Regions from separate parts of the Homo sapiens genome. Here region 1 is linked to region 2. Evidence: fine-mapped expression QTL. Tissue or cell type: whole blood. Region 2 holds a variant in brackets; the other region holds the start of a gene. All regions are shown on one strand. Distances are from middle to middle.

Region 1 (11,064 bases), 32 kb before region 2:
CCCATGCCAAGCACTGCGCCAAACACTTCATGTGCAGTTTACATAATGCTCCAGCCCCCCGCCGTGCCCACTTCGCAGAGGGAGACATGGGAAGTGTGATATGATAAAGGGTCAAAGTGTTCATCAGGTAGGAGGAGTATGTTCTGGAGGTCTAACATACAGGTGGTGCTTATAGTTAATAACACCATATCATAACTGGAAATTTGCTAAGAAAGTAGATTTTAAGTCTTCCCACCGTCCCACCATAAAAAGTGGTCATCATTTCAATGTATGTGCATTTCAAAACATCACGTCATATACCTTAAATATACACAATTTTTATTTGTTAATTATATCTCAATAAAATGGGGGGTGGGGGGAGTGTCATGAGATCAAGATAGTGGCCCAAAGTCACCCAGCTGAGAAGAGGTGAAACAGACTCACACCCATGTCTGATCTGGGTTTTTAACAATGATCCTGCAGAAACCGTCAGCTCACAGGAGGGATAAGCTCTGGGCACTCCAAAGGGGAGAGGGATAAGAGCTCCGGTGGTCCAGACACAGCTTCGTGGAGGAGGCCTGGGAGCTGGGCTAAGGGGCCTGGGAGGGGAAGAGCTGAATGAAATGCAACAGCCGAAAGTGCTTGGGAAATGCCTGCAAATGCCGGCAGTCTGATGCACGCAGAGCCTGAACCAGGGGCCTCGGAGCTGAGGCTCAGAGTGGGCCCAGACACAGGCACCCAGACCCAGTGCACAAGATAAAAACGGTCTGTAACACTGGGGCCTGATAGAGAGGCACTGAGCAGAATTAGCTACCCTGCCCTCTGACCTCATCACCCTGTGGCCAGAGGAACATCATGCTTGGTCTACTCACCCTGGAGCTCATTGTCTGAGACCGTCTGGTCCCCCAGGACCTGCCCACTCTCCCAGGTCAGCAGCAGCCCCACAAACAGCAGCAGAGTCTTCATCATGCCTCCAATTCTGGAGTCTTTGCACGCCTCTGCAGAGAACAGGAGACCATCATGGGAACAGCTAGACAGCCTGCTGGCGTCCCGCCCACCTGCTGCCTGCAGCAGCTCCCCAGGGCCTCACTGCCCTCAGCTGTCCCCACAGCAGGCACTGCTGCACTTTTATTCCTGAGGAAATGGGGGGAAATGACCAGACTTGCCATGGACACCTCGAATGAAAGCGAAGGCAGGAGGTGCAGGGAGGGAGGGACTGCAGGACAGCAATGTTGAGTGGAAGAAACAAGAACCCTGGCATCGGAGGAACCAGGCTCTTGTCCAAGCCACATCCTCCCCGACAATCAGCGAGGCACACAGGCTTTCTGCATCCTGGCCTCCTTGTCCAGAGTGGTATCGATCATGTCAGACACTGAAAATACCCCCCTTAGGTCATGCATCCGTCCCTCCCCATGCCACCTCCACAGAGGGACTGCATCCCAGAGACCAGCCACGTCCTCTGCAATGTGCACCTAAACCTTCACCCCAGCAGACGCTCCCCATTCACCACAGCGCTGCAGCCCCCAGGGAGTCTCAGCACCACCTGAACTTGACTTTCAAGAGCCGGAGGCAACAGCAGCCAGCCCTTCACACCGAATCCATCTGCATCCCTAGTGGGAGACTTGGGCCGGGCTGCCTGTGCATTCAGGGGTGGAAGTAGTGGAAGCCAGGAAGGACAATTCCCTTCGGAGAGTAGAGAGGGTTCGCAGTGGCCCGAGGAGCAGGCTTCCCAGAGAAAGTCCCTTTGGAAGGATGAGTCCTCTTGCTCTGCCAGGCCCTCCACACTGCCCATCCCCTCTAAGCCGACAGCAGGCTGCCCTGCCAGTGTTCCTGCCACCACTGGGCTGGCTGCCCTGAGCCACGGGGCACAGGCCATAGCCCCGGTCTTACACAATGGACCCTTTCCCAGAAGCTGAGGCTGTTGCATAAAACAGAAACCCCTCCCCCTGCACTCCACCCCCACCATGCCCCTCCCAAGAACTGCTTATCTGAGCTCACCCATTTGCCATCACAGAACCAACAGGACGATGGGGTTCCCCTTCCTGAAATGGTTCACATCCAAAGCCCGCTCAGCCCAGCAGGCCCATCTGGACACTCAGTAGCACATTAACAAGGAGTGCCTCTCATGAGAAGTAATCAGGCGCAAAGAGCCAGGGAGCAGCGTGGGAGAAGAGATGGGGTCAGCGCCTTCCCCAGAGATGGGGTAGGGGGCGGAGACCGGGCTCACCAGGAAGGCTGTGGTCTCACGGGCTCTGCCCCAGCTGCCCACTGAGCCCTGAAATGCCTCCAGCAGGAACAGAGCCTTTGTCATGCCAGAGAGACAAAGCCAGCCAGAAACACCTCTCTGCCAGGGGCCCCTGAAAGCAACAACTTCTGGAAAAACCCATTCAGAACTAGGTTCTGACCAGAAGACAGGGTGCTGGGCCATGAAGAATGGGGCAGCCAAAGGCAAGATACAGGAAAGGAATTCCAGACTCAGCAGCGGGCACAGAGTCTGCTCCAGGGAGCCTGGGGTCCCTGGTGAACCATCCAGCTCAGACCTGGGAAGGAGGTCGTTCTCTCACCCAACCTCTCTACCCTAGCGGTGAGGCTGAAGCCCAGAGAGGGCATGGGACTCCCTAGAGTCCACAGCATGCTCATGGTAACCCTGGGATGAGAGCCCAGCCCTCCCGACCCCTAGTCCAGTATTCTTTCCTTGATTCCAAGTCACTTAAATATCTGAGCCTCAGTTTCTTCATCTGTAAAATGGATCTAATCCAGACCTCAGAGAGGGGAATGTGTTCTGTAAACACGAGGGTCTTATGTAATCATAGTAAATTCTGACTACTTCCAAATTAGACTGAGGTCTGAGGCTGGGCATTGGCAGTGTCTAATCAACATGTCTGGAGAGGGGCAGGAAAACCGAGACAAGCACACAGAGGCCACCTGTGGTCCCCCGGACTGTGTGGCTCTGCTTTGCTGAAATGATTGACCACTTTTTAAAGTACTTATGAATCACTGCAGGGCTGGTTATAATGTTGGTTCTGAGACTGCTTTTCCAGCCAGTCTGCAGGTGATATGGATGCTGCTGATCCAAGGAATGTTCTAGAACCGTGACTGCACAGCCGACCTCCTTTCCTTTGCTCGGACTCACCTCCCCCCTCATCTCCTCTGCCTCCTGGGAGCCTGGCTGCCAGCTGCCCTGGGTGGAAGAGCCATGCCAAGGCCAAGGCCCTCGAGTCCCCAGCACTACCACACAGCCTCATTCTCCCTAAGAAGGCTTAAACCACTTGGCCTTGCTCCTTCTACCAGAAAAGGCCGGTTCTGTGGACAAAGGGGCTGCTCAGGGGAAGAGGAGGAGGAGAAGATGGCGGGGGGTGGGGGGCAGGGGGGGCGGGGGGAGCAGGCAGACTTTGGGAGCAACTCCCCTCCAGGCACACCCTCCTGGGAACTTTGAACTGAGCAGCTTCCCAAAACGTTTCCAAGCAGGGCAGGGCTGGAGGCTTAAGAAAATCAATGACCTGGCAGGGCGCATTGATTCACACCTGTCACCCCAGCACTTTGGGAGGCCAAGACAGGCGGATTACTTGAGATCAGGAGTTCGAGACCAGCCTGGCCAAGGTGGTGAAACCATGTCTCTACTAAAAATACAAAAATTAGCCGGATGTAGCAGCATGCGCCTGTAGTCCCAGCTACTCAGAGGCTGAGGCATGAGAACTGCTTGAACCCGGATGGCGGAGGTTGCAGTGAGCCGAGATGGCGCTACTCTACTCCAGCCTGGGCAACAGAGTGAGACTTGGTCTCAGGAAAAAAAAAAAAAAAGAGAGAAAAGAAAGAAAGAAAATCAATGACTGTGAACAGGGAGCCGTGGGGAGGATGGGAAGACAGTGAAGAGGGCACACAGATGGTGAGGGTTTCAATCCCAAAGCCCCGGCTCCTATCTGCTTCTTCAAATGGAGAAAACTAAACCAAAAGGAAAATAAGAAAAATAATCACCGGTAATTCATATCACCCAGAGGCAAAGGTTAGCACTGTGGTATATTTCCTTCTGTCTTCCATGCAGTTTATACAAGATTCTTCACATTCACCATCTTCAAATATTCTTTAAGGGCATACTTTTATGGCTATGTAATACTCCACTTACTCACGGACCTAAGTTTATTTTACCATTCTCACAAGATTGGCCATTTCAGTTGTGCCCAATGCTCCACTATTATTATAACTTAACATTTTCATGGGCATCTTTTTTTATATAGTATCTGTACTTTCCTTTAAATTCCTAACCTCTCCGTTTAAAAAATAATAATAAAAATCATATTTTTTTTAACTAGGTCCAGAAATTCTGGAAGGTCAAGAGGCTTTGGCTCGAATCCCAATTCTGATACTTATTTGCTGTTTAGTGTTGGCACCAGTCCTAAACCTCTCCAGGCCTCAGATTATCATCTGTAAAATGAGACTGTGGAATCAGAGGTCTGAGGCCTGGTGGATCTTGTGTGACTTTTCTCTGATGCACCTCAGATGCATTAGGAGGCAGAAAAAGTCGGATTTCGGTGGTTGCAGCATATACTGAAATCCGCAGCCTCATACTTACAGGCAACAGTGTCCAGAGAGCTAGAGAATTTAGAAGAAAACTAGATGACTCATGCATGCAAGCCGAAAGCCACAACTGAGAGATCCGCATCTTCGCAGAGGATATGCTGCAGGAAGGAGCTCGGTGCAGGCCAGCTCTGTCACCTGCTAGCCTGGGTCTCCCGCAACGCGGCAGGTCTCCAGGTCTCAGTTTCCCCATCTTTGCGAAAGGATGATCATTATATCTGTTCTATTTACCCCCCCACCACAGAATTGTGGTTGGAGCTCGTGCTCTCAGGCGGCGGTTGCGCCGGGGCCCCTGGCTCAGCTGCCTGGTGATGGGGCTCCGGCCACCTCCCCTCCCTGGCTTCCTGGGCTCCGTCGAAAGCGCAGGGGTTGTGACTGCGAGCTGTGTCATCCCTCTCTGCCTGGCTGCCATCCCCTGCCCGCCCATCCGTCCTGGTGTGGCTCTGCTCAAGGGTAGGGAAGACGGGGACATCTCACCGGTCAGCGGCACCCTGTGCCCGCGCGCTCCTCCTGGCGACGCCGCGTTGTGGGCACTGGGAGGCGCCGTATTTATAGCGCTCTGCTCGCGCACACACCCCCTTTGGGGCTGGCTGCAAACCTGCATGACTCACGCCCAAAGAATGCCGCGGAAAGCAAGGGGAGCTTTCTGGAAGCCGGGAGGTGGGGGCCGGTGCAGCACCGGGCTGGGGGCGCCGGGGGGCGCATCATCACCACGAATAGCTGTGCTGGCTCCAGGAGAGACCCTGAGGTGCGGCCGCTCGGCGCTTCCAGTAGGGAAGAGCCTGAACTCGCGTGCCCATCTGGGAGCCCCTCTCACGCGGTTAGCCCGGCTGTCTGTCCCAGTCCAAGACACAATCTCACAGTTCCCTGGCCCTACTGACCTTAACCTTCACATTACACAAGCGCCACTTCTCTTGACCCATTTAAATAGTAAAGAGTCAGACATAATGAGGGTGGGATGGAGAGGGGCCTTGTGCTGGAGAAGAGAGCACAGGAAGTATTGAAACGCCTACTCCTGGAAACATCACACTGATGGGGGTCCCTGGACTGACCCGCCAGGCCTGGAGGAAACAGAATTGTGTTTAGGAGTGATCAGAGCAGATATGTGGAGAGCCAGAAGGCCTCTCCGGGGTCCTTGATCCACAGAGCTTAAGCAATCACTGTCCCCATCTTTTTGGAACCCAACCAAGCAGGGTGGGCTTCATGGCTGTGGGACCCTTGCAGATCCACGTTTGGTTTAATGGGCTACTGTGACGGTCTTGAAATTCTTCATAGTTTTTGAACCAGTGGACCTGAATTTTTATTTTGCCCTGAGCCTTCCCAGTTAGGAAATCAGATCTGTGTCCAGAGGGGTTTGCTGGTCTCCAACTGCTGGAGTTCCTTCTGCTGAGAGCAGGGAGAATCTCCTGTCGCAGCCACCCCTCCCCCTGGCAAGGAGGGGCAAATCTAGGAACCCTGGAGGTGCAGCTACTTCTTGGGGAAGAAAGTGAGCTGCCCATTTTGGAGCCAGGGATGTTTAAGCCCCAGGAGAGAAGTCAAGGGGCTGACAGCTGGGGCAATGGGTGGACAGGGCGGGTACAGGCAGCCCCACTGTGGGTGGCAGACTTTGAAAACCATGTGAAACAAAGGGGCTTAAAGGAGAGCTGCGTGGTCAGGGGCTGAGTTTTCCAGTTCAGGATCAGGACTATGGAGGCACAACATGGAGGCCCAGTCCCTTGCTTGCCCAACGTCCAGGGGCCACTAGGACCCCAGTCCTTTTCAGGAGGCAGCCTCGGGGAATCTTCAAGGCCCATGACTAAGTGGGAGAACCCAGACCAGGTCCATGAAAGTCTGATTACAGTCCTAGGTGTGCCCCTAGACACTGGGTGACCTCGGACTAATCACTTTGCCCTTGGGCCTCAGTTTCTTCCATCTGGACGATGAGGAATCGGGAATGGATCATCTCCACGGCTCCCTGCAACCTAACCTAGAGCCAAGCCAAGTATTAGAAGGCCATTAACCCAGAAGAAGAAAAAAATGTCCCAGAAGAGGCTACACTTTATTTTTCTTAAAAAAAAAATGTCTAATTATCAGTAACAGCTACATTTTCTGTGGACAGTGCCTGCTCCTTATCAGTGCCTGCTCCTTATCAATACCTGAGGTTAGAAGAATTGTTTTTGAGCTCGCTCCTTGTAACTTTTCTGTTCTGTAGCTCCCTCAGCATCCGGAACAGAAGGCATAAATCTAGTTATATTTTTAAAAATTAGACTTTGGAGGTCAGTCAGTGAGATCCGCCTTAGCCAGCTGAATTAGGGGAAGGGAAGAGAGGAAGAAAGGACTTGGGAGAAAATAGCATGATTCACAGATTCACAGTCATGACTGTGATCCCTTGGGAATAATTACTTGATTATTCCCACTACTAAGCAAACAAGGTTCAGAAGGTCAAACTTTGAGGAAAGAAAAGTGTAAATTTTGAAAGCGCCATAAATGCATCACCAGATGTTTCATATTCTAAGCAGATCATAGACATTGATTGGTTCAGGACTCACACACTGCTTGATTCCTACCCCATCCCCAGCATCTGCACCCGGTGGTCATCCTGCCCATGTTTGAATGCCACCAATAACAGGGAGCTCACTACCTGCCATGCAACCATTTGTCTAGTAAAGCTGTTGATAAAGTTAGGGCCTTCTTTGGTTGAGTCACAGTCTGGCTCGTGTATGGGCCAATCCGGAGCCCAGTTCTGCCCTCTGGAGCCACACAGAGAAAATCCAGCCTATCTCTCCCATAGTGCCCCTTCTGATATTTGAAGGCAACGTAGTCTGCTTTTCCCAGTGACCTCCAGGCTTGCAGCTCCTTGCCTTGCCGTGGTTTGCAGACTTTTCCCCAGCCCTTTGACATTCTGGACCTCATCTCTCTTGAAACCCTTGGCCCAGCCCTGGACTAGCCAATGCCAGTGGGGAGCCTTGGACCAGCCAATGCCGGAGGGCCTGAGCACACAAAGCAGAACAGGACCACCCCTTCCCTTGCCCTAAACACTCCAAATAAGCTTTATCAGATGCTGAGTCACTGGGCTGATTCATAGAGAATGCATCATCTTCTTGGCAGGTGCTGCTGTTTGATCCTCTGTCTCCCATTATGGACTTACACAGCTGGGTTTGGGGCATTAGCTTGATTTATTTTCTTGGAGAGTCAGAGCCATGGGGAGGGCCAGGGAGGGATGAGTAAAGACCCTTGCATTTATCTGTTTATCTATGCTTTGTGCACCATCTCTGGCTGCCTGAATGTCTCTGGGGCTGCTTCGCTACGCAGTGTCCTTATTACACATCCCCAACCAGCCTTTGTCTGGCTCAGCACCACAAGCAGGACAGCTCAGCCAGCAGTCTGATACAGCTGGAACAAACTAGGAATGGGCAAGAGCAGTATCCTGTGGCCTGTGATTAAGAATCACTCTCAGATGGGCGTGGTGACTCACACCTGTAATCCTAGCACTTTGGGAGGCTGAGGTGGGAGGATCACTTGAGTCCAGGAGTTCAAGACCAGCCAGGGCAACATAGCAAGACCCAGTTTCTACAAAAATTAAAAAATTAGCCAAGCATGGTAGTGCATGCCCGCAATCTCAGCTACTCAGGAAGCTGAGATGGAGTATCGCTTGAGCCCAGGAGGTCAAGGCTGCAGTGAGCTACGATCGCACCACTGCACTCCAGCCTGGGCAATAAAGTGAGACCCTGTCTCTCAAAAATAAAAATGAAAAAAATAAGAGAATCACTCTCCAAGGGGAGCAGGGAGGGAGGATGGTGAGAGATTGGTCAACCAGTACACAGTTAAAGTCAGATGGGAGGGATAAGTTCTGGTATTCTATCGCATAGTAGAGTTTAACTTTTTTTTTAGGTCCCAGTATCTATTGCTCCCCTCTATGTGTCCATGTGTTCTCATCATTCAGCTCCCACTTATAAGTGAAAACATGCAGAATTTTGTTTTCTGTTCCTGTGTTACTTCACTTAGAATAATAGCCTCCAGCTCCATCCATGTTCCTGCAAAAGACATGATCTCGTTCTTTTTTATGGCTGCATAGTATTCCATGGTGTATACCGTAGTATTCCATGGTGTATATATACCATATTTTCCTTATCCAGTCTGCCACTGATGGGCATTTAGGTTGATTCCATGCCTCTGCTATTGAGAATAGTGCTGCAATGAACATATGAGTGCATGTGTCGTTATGGCAGAGCAATTTATATTCCTATATATACCCAGTAATGAGATTGCTGGGTGAAATGTTAATTCTGTTTTTAGCTCTTTCAGGAATCATCACACTGCTTTCCAAAATGGTTGAACTAATTTACACTCCCACCAACAGTGTATATAAGCCTTCCCTTTTATCCACAACCTCACCAGCACCTCTTATTTTTTGAATAATGTATATTTCAACATAGGTAGAAGAGAGAACTTACAATGTTCTCACCACAAAGAAATGTTTGAGATGGATTTGGTAATTACCCTAATTTGATCCTTACACAATGTGTGCACGTATCAAAACATCACATTGTACCCCACAAATATGTACCATTCTCGTGTCAGTTTTAATTTTTTTTAACTTAGTGAAAGGCTGGGTGCAGTGGCTCACGCCTATAATCCCAACACTTCAGGAGGCCGAGGTGGGGAGATCACTAGGTCAAGAGACCATCCTGGCCAACATGGTGAAACCCTGTCTCTACTAAAAATACAAAAATTAGCTGGGCATGGTGGCACGCGCCTGCAGTCCCAGCTACTCGGGAGGCTGAGGCAGGAGAATTGCTTGAACCCGGGAGCTGGAGGTTACAGTGAGCTGAGATCGCACCACTGCACTCCAGCCTGGCAACAGAGTGAGACTCCATCCAAAAACAAACAAACAAACAAACAAAAGGATGGATTTGCTAATTACCCTAATTCGATCATTACACAAACGATCTTAGTAAAAAGATCACAAATGATTCTTAGTAAAAAAGAATCACTTTCCAAGCTGTAATTATTTAATGGGTATATACATTTATTTAATCAATTACAGGCCCATGATCAAATGGTGGCTAATAAAATCATATCCAGTGAAATCAGCCCATAGATGATACAGAGGTATTCTGAGTGATTTTCTCCGGACCTCCGTAAAGTCCAGAAACATTCACTCCATCAGTGGGTGTGTCTCATCTCCCCATTCAGGATCTTCTTGGGTAAAGGTCTGAGGCTAGCCAATCCTGAACTGTTTAGCATGTGCCTACAAGTAAACAAATGTCGCTTATGCCACCTTCACTGTCCCTCATGCTATTGAGTGGCTATGTGTTCTGTATTTCACTCCAGAGTTGCTTTACTGTGACCTTTAGCTCCAATTATTAGGTGAATGAGCCCTTCAAAAAATGGTGCCAGATCTGCTTTAAGTCAAACCTACTTTTTCCACAACTACCCAGATGGCAATTAATACTTATTTTAGATCAATGGTTCTCAGTGGAACTACACAATGGATATACAATGGAATCTCCTGGGAACTTTAAAAATTATCAGTGCCTGAGTCCCACCTCCAGAGGTTATGAATGAATTAATTGTGGGTGCTGCCAGAGCATCAGGATTTTAAAACTCTCCAAATCATTTTAATGAGCACCTAAAGTCGAGGACCACTTCTGAATTTACCCCATCTGTTCCTTACTGCACCTCTCTGTCATTATTAGAGCATCTGATATTGTTCTCATTTTATAGAAGATGTAAAAGAGGGCAAAGGAATCTTGGCAGGGTTTTGTTTACACAGAGCTAAAGTCTGCCTCCTTATAACTTCTTTTTTTTTTGGTTTTGTTTTGTTTTTTAATACGGAGCTCATCCCGTCGCCCAGCCTGGAGTGCAGTGGCATGATCTCGGCTTACTGTGACCTCCTCCTCCTGGGTTCAAGCGACTCTTGTGCCTTAGCCTCCTGAGTAGCTGGGATTGCATGTGTGCACCACCACACCCGGCTAATTTTGTATTTTTAGTAGAGACAGTGTTTCACCATGTTGGCCAGGCTTGTCTTGAACCCCTGACCTCAAGTGATCTGCCCGCCTCTGCCTCCCAAAATGCTAGGATTACAGGTGTGAGTCACCGCGCCTGGCCACCACCTTATAAATTCTTTGTCCCATATCTTATTTCTAAATCAATACATGATAAGTTGGTCCCTCCCACAAGAAAGCCCTTCAAACATTTGAAAACCAATATTGTATCTCAGCTTAAATGTATTTCCTTACAGTGTAATGTCCCTCAACATCCTCGCATAGAGTGGAGTTTCCAGATAACCTCACTCTTCTCATCCCTGCCCCCAAGGATGCCACATTTCTTCATTGTCCCTCTGTGTGGCTTTTACACCAAACACAGGAGAACTGCTTTGACTGGCCAGGGGAGAGTGTGGCAGGGCACTTACTACCTGTGATTTGAGAGGTGTCACTCCCTGTGCTCCCAAGGCACTCTCTGCTTCCTTTTGTATTATATTATACCACACTGTGCTTCTCAGATTGGCTTGAGCTGACTTCTGGGGAG
Region 2 (10,040 bases):
GAACTTGGAGGAAGGAGAGCGAGGAAAGGCTGAGTGCATTGGGGATGAAGAAGGCAAGGGGCTTGAGATCAAGCAGATGGAACAGCAATAAGCCTTAAGCTCCAGAGGGCAGGCAGGATGTGTAGAGATGAGACAGTAAATCCCATGTCCAGAGCCCTGAGTTTCAACAGAAAAGCTGCTTCCATTCAAGTTGATGGCAGGAGACAGAATGAAGAATTCATCCAATCCAGGTGATGTCATTGTCCAGAACAGTGTTCCCTAAAGTCAGAGTCCCTCTGCCTCTGAACATAGGTCCCAGAATTAAAAGATACATTTATTTTTCAAGATCTGCAGGAAGTTCCATGACCAAATAAGTCTGAGAAACGTGGAGTTAAACACAGATTTAAATGGGCTTATTATTTTTTTTGGCAGGACTTTTCAAAATGCTTACTATGTGAATGTGAATCTCTAAGATGGCGATAGAGTATGCCATGTTTTCCACACTTACTTGATCAAATAATCCTTTTTCACAAAGAATAATTTGGGACTAGTGTCCCATAGGATATGTTTTGAAACACTGATTTCTTGTAAGTTGGAAATTGGTCCTGGGAGTGATGGGGGTTGGGAGATGGCAATAAATGGCAGCATTAATTGGAATAGGATAGAAAAATAATCCTAATAAAAGTGGCTGCTACTACTATTTATTAAGCATTTACGATGTACCAGGTACTTTTCATATACGTCTCATTGGATTTTCACAGCAGCTCATTGAAGCGGACGATCTCCCCACCATTTACGCATAAGGAACATGAAACTCAGAGGAGGGAAGTGGGGTGCCCATGCGAGACAGGGTAGGATTTGCAGGATCAGGGGTGACAACGGGGATCAAGAGAACTGGTGATTCCTGGCCAGGCATGGTGGCTCATGCCAGTAATCCCAGCACTTTGGGAGACCCAGGGAGGAGGATCACTTCAGGCCAGGAATTTGAGACCAGCCTGGGCAACATAGTGAGATCTTGTCTCTACAAAAAATAAGCAAGATTAGCTGGGTGTGATGGCACACACCTGTAGCCTCAGCTACTTAGGAGGCTGAGGTGGGAGGATCGTTTGAACCCGGGAGGTCTAGGCGGCACTGAGCCATGATCGCACCACAGCACTCCAGCCTGGCCAATAGAGCAAGACCTTGTCTATAAAAAGAAACAAAAAAAGAAAAGAAAAGAAAGCCAGTGATTCCCACCCCTCCCATCCCTCTGAATTCATGGGGTTCAGGGGAGTCGGGGGGGTTGGTGCTGTGGACAGAGAGGAGATCAGTGTGTAAGTAATGGGGGGAGTCTGTTGCATTGAGTGAGTAGCCTAGGTTCTTGTCTCAACTAGAGGCAGCACCAGCCTGCGAGCAGGTATTTAGAAATGGGTGGGCATTCGGGGTTGTCACAATGACCAGGGATTGCTATTGGCCTTTAGCGGGCAAGGCCAGGATGCTGAATGTCTGTGCAGAGTGGGCCGTGCTCATCTAATGAAGAATTGCACCACCTGGAATAGGGTCCAAGTTAGAAAAGTTGAGGGCAAGAAAGTTGTTTAGGATAAAGGGGATTTAGGATAAAGCAGGGATTTACCCACAACCTCTGTGGTTACCAAGAACAGGGTGGGAGGCAGCCAAAGGGATTCAGGTGGAGGTAGCAGGAACCGGGAGGGAAGCCTGTCTCAGAGCAGCAGATGTGGCTTTAGGGATGCAGGAGCTTGAGGATGGGGACCAAAAAAGGGGCGAGTGCTGGAGGAGAGAAACTGGCAGAGCCACGGAAGCAGAAAAGGACAACTTGTTGAGCAAGAAGATTTGAAGGGAAAGGACCTGTGTCTTGAGACCTGAGCGGGCAGGCGGATTCCCAACCGATTACAGACAAACCCACAAAGGAAGCCTGTGGAGAGGGGGTAGTGGCGGAAGGGCTCTAATGAAAACAATTTTGCAACCTTACTTATAGCGTTCTCCAACCTTAAACTAATAGCTATTCTGCACTTTAAATATAGCATTGGCTCCAGAGAAGACTCTGAAATCTTTATTTTTACCGATCCAATTGGCTGTTTTGAAAACCCACTCTGTGAACCCTGCAGAAGATAATTATCAAAATATGTTCCTTGAAGTGCCCAAAGAAAGACCTTTTATTCAGTTCCTCGAATCTCTCCCCCTTGTTGACTCAGATGGAAGAATGCAGTCCCAGAAAGGCGAAAGAGGGAACCAAGGACACATTTTTGGTCAACCAAAAGAAAGCCGGCATTGGTGACCACAGTTGAGTTAGCAGTTGGTTAACAGGTCCGGGCTATTTTCTACCCCCAAAGGGAGAGCTGAACCAAGCTCAACCCCAGTGGAGTCAGTGGCCGTGCTTAGCAATGTGCCAAGGCATGCACCCTCCATCAAACTTGCTACGTGGCTCTGTGAGAGCAGACTTAAAAAAAAAAAAGGAATTTCTCCTCTTGTGGCTGTCCTTTCTGGAGTTTGAGATGGATATTGTGACCTAAGGGATGACAGGAAGAGAGGCCCTTTCAAATTTCTAGTGGTCACCACTATTTTATGGGTCTGGGTTTGCAGCCTTGGCCTTGGCCTTGGCCTTCCCAGGCTATTTAACTTTTTTTTCTAAGCACCTTGCCTGCGATTTGGGTAGTAATCACTGCAAGAAGATTGGGGCCTGGCTGTGCCTTTCACTAGGAAATCCATGGGGCTGGCTTCTTTATGACAGGGACCATGGCCCTCCCTCATAGCAGCTGTGGTCCCTTGGGGCCTTGGGATCAGAGCAGGCAGAAACTGGCTCATGGAGTCTTAGATGTTCGTTCTTTCATGATTCCCATGCTGTCCCAAGTTTGTTCCCAGAGAGGAGTTTTCCCATAGGTTTTTAGGTCCCAGCATCACCTTATCTTCTCCAGTGTCCTCTTCCAAGCCCATCCGCTCCTGCCAAAATAACCTTGCTCCTGGAATCCACAAAATGAAGAAAAGAAGGGGAGAGAGAGAGAGAGAGAGAGAGAGAAGAGAGACAGAAGGCAACCAGTGCTATTTCTGCCTTCCTATAAACGGAGTCTCTCTCTAGACACCTAGAGCCTATCATAACATGATGATTTCATTACCCCTTCCAGACACCCAGCATGCTTCACACTCAGGCACTCCTCGATTTTCAGCATGTCAAGAGTCCTACATTTCTTTATACATGACACAGACAAGAACCAGCGCCTTACTTTAGAGAGCTATAGACATATTACATACAGGTGGTATTGAAAAGCAATTAACTGGGACAACAATGGAAAAACACGACCCCCCCAAACAAGAACCCTTGGAGCTTCAGGAGAAGAATATGATGTCCCTTGTTCTGTTCTGCGAAGGGGAGGGGAAGTAGAGCCAACATTTTGCTCCTACCCAGTCCTCCACCAGCTCATTCCTTTGCAGTTCAAACACCAGCCCTTGGTATATAAATTTCGCCTTCGCTGCAAAATTTTATAAATTTCGAAAGGTATATAAATTAAGCCTTTGCACTCCAAATGCATCCATCGTCCCCAACACTCCCTAGCCATGGAGAATCCTAAGAATAAACCAGATTCCAACCCTATTTTAAGTCATCAATCTTCATTTTTTAAATACACATGAGCTCCTGATTAAAATAGCAGAGGATAACAGTTAACTGAAGACATAGGCCTTCGCCGAGGGCCAGAAAACACATCTTTATGGAACATCCACTATGTGATCAACCCTGTGCTGAAAGCAGTTGAGGGGAGCTTTCCTGACCACAGGGATGTAGCAAACTGCTAGGAGCGTGACCTGTCAACAGATATCAGGCTTATATGGAAAGGTCTTGTCCCAGTTCTGAGGCGTTTCTGAGATGGGCATGTGCAACTCTGCAGACACTCAAATGCGTGTTTGGATTCTGCCTCAGATTCTTGGATATTTAGGAGCCACTAACCAGCTTCCAGGCCACTTAACCTCTCTGAGCCTTTGTGACATGATGGAGGTGAATTTGCAAATTCCCTTCCCACCCTCTCAGGCTGTGGTTCTCTATCCCTGAAACCCCTTTGGAGAGCTGGTGCACCTAACTCTAAGTCAGTTTGCCCTTAATGGCAGGAGAATAGGCATAGAAGACGGAGAGGGGAAGGAAATTCTTTTCCCATCTCTATTAACCCTGCTTGGCCTAGTTCAAGGAGGCACTACGGATGCCTGCCTAATCAGTCATCCTCTGATCAATCACTACTCTGGGGCCTCAGCCAGGGCTTTTTCATTCTTGGTGACTGTTTATTCATCCATACATATTCTGATCAGAACAATCTTGGTATAACATGAACATAATGAGCTTGTGCTTGCAAAGGGCTCGGCTT[A/T]TAAGAGCCTCACAAATGCTTTGGATTATGTTCTCATTAAGTGAACGAGGCTACAGTGGTGAGTTACTACAGCATTCCAGACATAGGTGAGTCAGGGGTCCCCACAGTCCGGGGCTTAGTGCTGGAAGACAGGAAATCCAAGGGATTAGAGAGAGAAGACCTCTTTGGGGATTGGGGAGGGCTGTGAGTTATGGAGCTGAGATGTCAGTGGAGGGAAGATGGCCAAACACCCGTGGTCCCCCTAGTCTAGAGAGATCCAAGATCTTCGCTGGCAGCCGCCACTTCCCTTCCCATGGGTCACTCGGTGCGTTACTGGAAAGCCTCGTTAGCAATTTCCACTGGCTAACAGTTGCTAATCTGGGGGGCTGTCCATTGGGAAAGCTGGTTATAACAAAGCTCTGTGTTTTTTGAGAGGGTGTTTGCTGAAGGCTGGTGTCAGCCTTGCTTGATTTAAGTCATCCCAGATTCCCTGCAAAGGCTATAAACAGTGAAGTGATGAAATGGGCCCTAGAGCCAGAACAGGGAGGAGGCCCAGTCACGGGGGAGGGCAGAGGAGCTCATCAAGGATGGAGAGAAACGAGGAACCCGGCCAAGGAGGCAGCTCTGCTCTAAGGGTTGGAAGGAATACCTCCCCACGGTAGCCCCGGGGCAGTGGTGAATACAGCCCACAGCCCACAACGTGGTTCTGACTGGGGTCTCTGGAGGTGAGAGGCCATGGCTACTAGGGTGAGGTTTTGGTCAGACAGAAACAGAAGGTACCAAGGAATTCCCCTGCCTTGCCCCAGCCATTCATTTATGGGAAAGAGATCATAATCCTGGTGACTGCCCAGGCCAGGCTTCCTTGTAAACTGTTGGCAGATTGACGATGGGACAGCTGCCCAAGGAGAGCTGAAAGTGCTTCTTAGGATATGCATGAAAACAAACTTCTCATGCTTCCTTGCTGTTCCCGCTTTACCCTCCAAAGCACTTGCCCGCACCCCTGACCGCCCCCGCCCCCCCCCCGCACACACACACTATTGCCCCGGAAAGCAAACCTACCTGGAATCTCCTATTGTGGAGAGGAAAACCAGGATTCCGGAAGCTTTGCCACTGCCCAGCTCTATGACTTGAGCCAGGCATTAACAACCTCACACCACACATACACAGGTACACACACATGCACACTCATGGGCAAAAATGCACGTGCACACATGTGCAAGCACAGGCACACACGCAGGCATGCATGTATACTCACACATGCATCGGACACACCCTCACACACATGTGCACACATACACAAAGTTTAGTTTCCTCACCTATCAAATCAGGAGAAAATGTTCTCTCTCTGTCTCTCAGACTAGTTGTAGGGATCAAATGGGATAACAGATGTGAGAGCGCTTTCAAAGTCCTAAACCCCAGGTCTCCTTTGTCGCCCCAGATTAATTCAATCTCTGGGGGTGGACCCTTGAAAGCTCCCCAGAGAGCTCCACAGGCAGGCATAGAACTGCTGGGAAGCCTAATACCAAATCCTTCATTGGTTTATTTGAAATTGTGTTTGTTGAGCCTTTCTCTGTGCCGGCTCTCTGTGCCGGCCACTGTGCTAGGGATGTTGGATAAAGCAGTGAACATGACAGATAGTCCCTGCCCTTGGAACTGAAGCGCTGGGGAAGAGAGCTGCCGCATGGACAGGAGAGGAGCATTCTCCTAGGGAGAGCACAGAGCATGTGAGGTGTGGGCAACAGGGCCTTACGCTAGTCTGAGAGCTCAAGAAAGACTGCTGGGGAAGTGACGTTTAAGCCATGCGTGAAGGCCGAGCAGAGGGCACTCGTGGTCTTGATGGTGGCATTTTTAATTTGGGGTCACCCTCAGTCCCCTCCCTACTGAGTCCATTCAGAGCTGCCTTTGCTTACCAACAGCGCCTTGCCAACTGCATCTCAGCTCCTATGTTGATCACAATGGCCGTGGCATGGCATTTGGGCCTCAGGTACTCACAGGTCTAGGATGCGGCTCAAGATGCCCATCAATCATGGTCAGGAGCCCCCGAGGCTCCGCAGCTCATTCATGTACCACCCTCTTCTTGTCTACCCGCTGACCTTGTAGTTGCAGAAGCAAGGTTTCTTAGCACTTTGTGGAACCTTTGCTCATTACCTCAAGGTGGTTGTAGGTATGGTAGAAAAGATTTCTGAGTTCACATCTTGGCTTCACCACTTCTATTCTGTGGGCTGCTAAGCAACATTCTTCACTTCCCTGAACCTCAGTCTTTTTGTCTATAAATGTGACTCTCTGGACTGTAAAGTTTATAAGATGTTGTGAAGATTGCCTTGAGGCAAAACCCAGCACTTTATTGCATTAAAAACAAAAAGGAGGCAGGGCGCAGTGGCTCACGCCTGTAATCCCAGCACTTTGGGAGGCCAAGGTGGGTGGATCACGGTCAGGAGATGGAGACCATCCTGGCTAACATGGTGAAACCTCGTTTCTACTAAAAATACAAAAAATTAGCCGGGCGTGGTGGCGGGCACCTGTAGTCCCAGCTACTCGGGAGGCTGAGGCAGGAGAATGGCGTGAACCCAGGTGGCAGAGCTTGCAGTGAGCCGAGATAGCACCACTGCAATCCAGCCTGGGCGACACAGTGAGACTTTGTCTCAAAAGAAAAAAAAAAGGAAAAAAGGAAAACTTGAAGCTTCTACTTCTAGCATTACCAGCTTAAAATATTCTCGGGCTATAAAATGTAGACATTAAATAAACTACAGACATACTGCTAAGTGCATAGCTAAAGGTGAAAGAAAGCAGGGAATCCTTAAGGACCCAACAAAACGGCAAAGAAAGAGATAAAGAGAGAGGGAGAGGGAGGAGAGAGAAAGAGAGAAAGGAGGGAGGGAGGGAGAGAGAAGGAAAGGAGGGAGGAAAGTAGGGAAGGAAGGAAAGGAAGGAAGGAATGAAGGAAAGGAAAGGAAAGGAGAAAGGGAAGGAAAGAGGTAAGGAAAGGAGGGAGGAAAGTAGGGAAGGAAGGATGGAAGGAAGGAGAAAGGGAAGAAAAGGCCAGGTCTTACTTACAGGGAGTGGGAGGTGAAGGGTGTCTGGGGAACTAGAGGAATCTTCTGAGTGAGGGATACATCATCTAGGTTTTAGTTAGGGACCATATTGTCCCAGAGAATAAGCACCGAATCAAACTCTGAAAGGAGACCTGCTCCGCCCAAGGCCCTTTGACACCCTGATGGGTCCTAGGTGAGATTGTGTGAAGCAGGGATCTGCGCCCATCCTGTCATCTCCTCCTCCCTCTGGCCTCCTCCTGGCTATGCTGGAGGCAGAGTCTTGGTGGGGACTATGCTGTGGCCAGATTCAGCCTTGTCCCTGGAGAAGAGGAATTCTGCTTCGGTGACCAAGTATTGGGGAATAGAAGGACGCTAAGCCAGAGCAAGCAGCCAGCTCTTATTTCTCCTTACTCCACCTTCATGGGTTTCAGCAAGCTCCAGAGAGAGCAGGCACTGAGGTGGCCCATGTGTCTTTCCCAGCGTGTGGAAAATGGGGAGCTCTCCTCACCCAGAGGGGTGGGACATCCCAGCTCCTCAGCCACTTGATTCTTATGTCCGCTCCCTTTTTGCAGCTTACATCAGGCCACCTGGAGCTCAGTGAGCTGGCTCAGGGGTAGAGGTGGGCATGGGATATGGGGACAGGTAAATAAAAGGGGCTGCTGGAGAGGCCTGGGATGGCTTTGGGTCTGACGGCACTGGCTTCATTATAGTGAGGTCGGCCGGCGGCGATGGAGATGCCTTGTGCGTTACAGAAGAGGACCTGGCGGGTGACGACGAGGACATGCCGACCTTCCCATGCACCCAGAAGGGTAAGGACTCTGGGGCTGCCCCTGATCTCCGCTCTGGGCTGAGAGATCCCTGTCTCCATCCCCAGGCCAGTGAGAGATTTGTCTCTTTAGGTGGTTTCAAAAGCCTGGGTGTCCTTTCCCCACTGCTTCCTGGATGGTGAAAGGGCAGAGTTCACGGCCCTGGGCGTGCAGTACCAGTGAAGTCAAAGGAGTTTAATGTTTTTTTTTCTTAAAGACATGGTTTTGCTGTGTCGTCCAGGCTAGTATGAGTGGTGCAACCACAGATCACTGCAGCCTCAAATTCCTGGGCTCGAGTGATCCTTCCACCTCAGCTTCCCAAGTAGCTGTGACTGTTGGCACGCACCACCATGCCTGGATAATTTTTTTTATTTTTTGTAGATACAAGAGTCTTGCTATGTTGCCCAGGCTGGTCTCAAACTCCTGGCCTCAAGTGATCTGCCCGCCTCAGCCTCCCAAATTGCTGGGGTTACAGGTGTGAGCCACTGTGCTTGGCCTGAAATCAAAGCTTGACACAAGTGCCACCTGTCTCCTGGGGTCCTCCCGAGACCCATCAGGGACTTCTGCCATCTCCCAGAGCTACATACCCTGTCCCTGGGGCCTGTCTTCTAGCTGGCCTGGAACTGTCCCCTTCATTGTGTCCCATGCCACCTGAACTGCTGTTTGGAATGGGGTCTCAGTGACTTTGGTGTAGAGTAGAGCAGTTGTTCTCAACCTTGGCTCTTCATTGCAATCACCCATGGATGCATGAGACCAACCCTTGGAAATTCCTATTTGGCCTGGAGTGTGATCTGGGCATCAGGATTTTTAAACGTCCTAGTAGTCAGAATGTGTGGCTAAAGGTGAGTTCACCTTAGGAATTCGCAGCTGGGCCATCACTGCATTCCCACTGGGTGTTGGCCACCTGTCTGTGTATTCAGGACCATCTGGTTCCCTCTTTCCTCCATGCCAACAATTCAACTGGTGGACCATGACTATTTGTTTGGTTTCCAGGAGAACTTCTGGTTCCCTGAAAAGTTTGGGGACTGGTAACCAACATTCTGGTTTGCCAGGGACTGAGGGGATTCCCAGGGTGTGGGGCTTTTCATTTTCTTTTTTCTTTTTTAAAATAGAGATGGGATCTTGCTATGTTGCCTTGGCTGGCCTCAAACTCCTGGGCTCAAGTGATCCCCCTGCCTCAGCCTCCTCAAGTGCTGGGATTACAGGCATGAGCTACTGTACCCGGCAGGCTTTCAGTTTTAAAACCCAGACAATCTTAGCAAACCAGGATGATTGGCACCATGCTGAGGAGCTCCTGTGATGGGAGACTTTCAGTGCTAAAACCCAGAAGATCCTGGGCAAGCCCAGACAAGTTGGTCACTCAGTGGGGCCTCAGGCTGGCTGCTCATCCTGTGGGTCCTCAGTAGGACCAATGGAGAGGGAAGAGGTGTTTCCCCTCCCCATGGGCCGAATGAAGACACCATGGAGAGAGGATGATGGTAGTGCTGGGGGCTGTTCTTTGAAGTCCTGACTCGGTCTCCTGCATTCCAGAAAGCACCAGCACCTAGAGAAAGGAGGTAGGACAGGTAGAGAATGAGGGTCGAGAACAGCTCCCCTTCTGAGCCTGGTTTGAATGTGATGAGACAGACCAGAGCAGGAACATGGAACTGACCCTTCAGCTCCAACCTGGGCCCCTGGCCTAAGCCATTGTCCTCCTTGTGTCCCCCACAGGCCGGCCAGGGCCCCGCTGCAGCCGCTGCCAGAAGAACCTATCTTTGCACACATCGGTGCGGATTCTTTACCTCTTCCTGGCCCTGCTCCTGGTGGCCGTGGCTGTGTTGGCCTCTCTGGGTGAGTCCGGGGCTTTCCCACCCCGGGCTGCAGGGGGGTGTCTGATCAGGGATCCAGCACCAAAAGTT

The links. PIP is the estimated chance that this variant, and not a neighbour inherited with it, causes the effect.
Region 1: it holds the start of CLU, and the variant in region 2 is fine-mapped to the expression of CLU in whole blood (TOPMed, PIP 0.94).

What each region holds. Positions count from the first base shown.
Region 1 is chr8:27,609,624-27,620,687 of GRCh38, forward strand. It overlaps CLU (clusterin), which reads right to left and starts at 5,077. Exons shown (of 9, transcript NM_001831.4): 1 at 5,032-5,077; 2 at 852-977. The coding sequence starts at 948. It overlaps MIR6843 (microRNA 6843), which reads right to left and starts at 1,128; the gene lies at 978-1,128. RefSeq lists enhancers at 1-112, 819-1,526, 4,709-5,208, 6,165-6,665, 6,956-7,712 and silencers at 3,490-3,675, 5,231-5,320.
Region 2 is chr8:27,641,656-27,651,695 of GRCh38, forward strand. SCARA3 (scavenger receptor class A member 3) reads left to right here. Exons shown (of 6, transcript NM_016240.3): 2 at 8,047-8,145; 3 at 9,853-9,972. Among named protein-coding and RNA genes, the nearest start is that of SCARA3, 13 kb to the left of the region's middle. RefSeq lists an enhancer at 9,408-9,908. The variant A/T (reference allele first, on the strand shown) is at 4,326.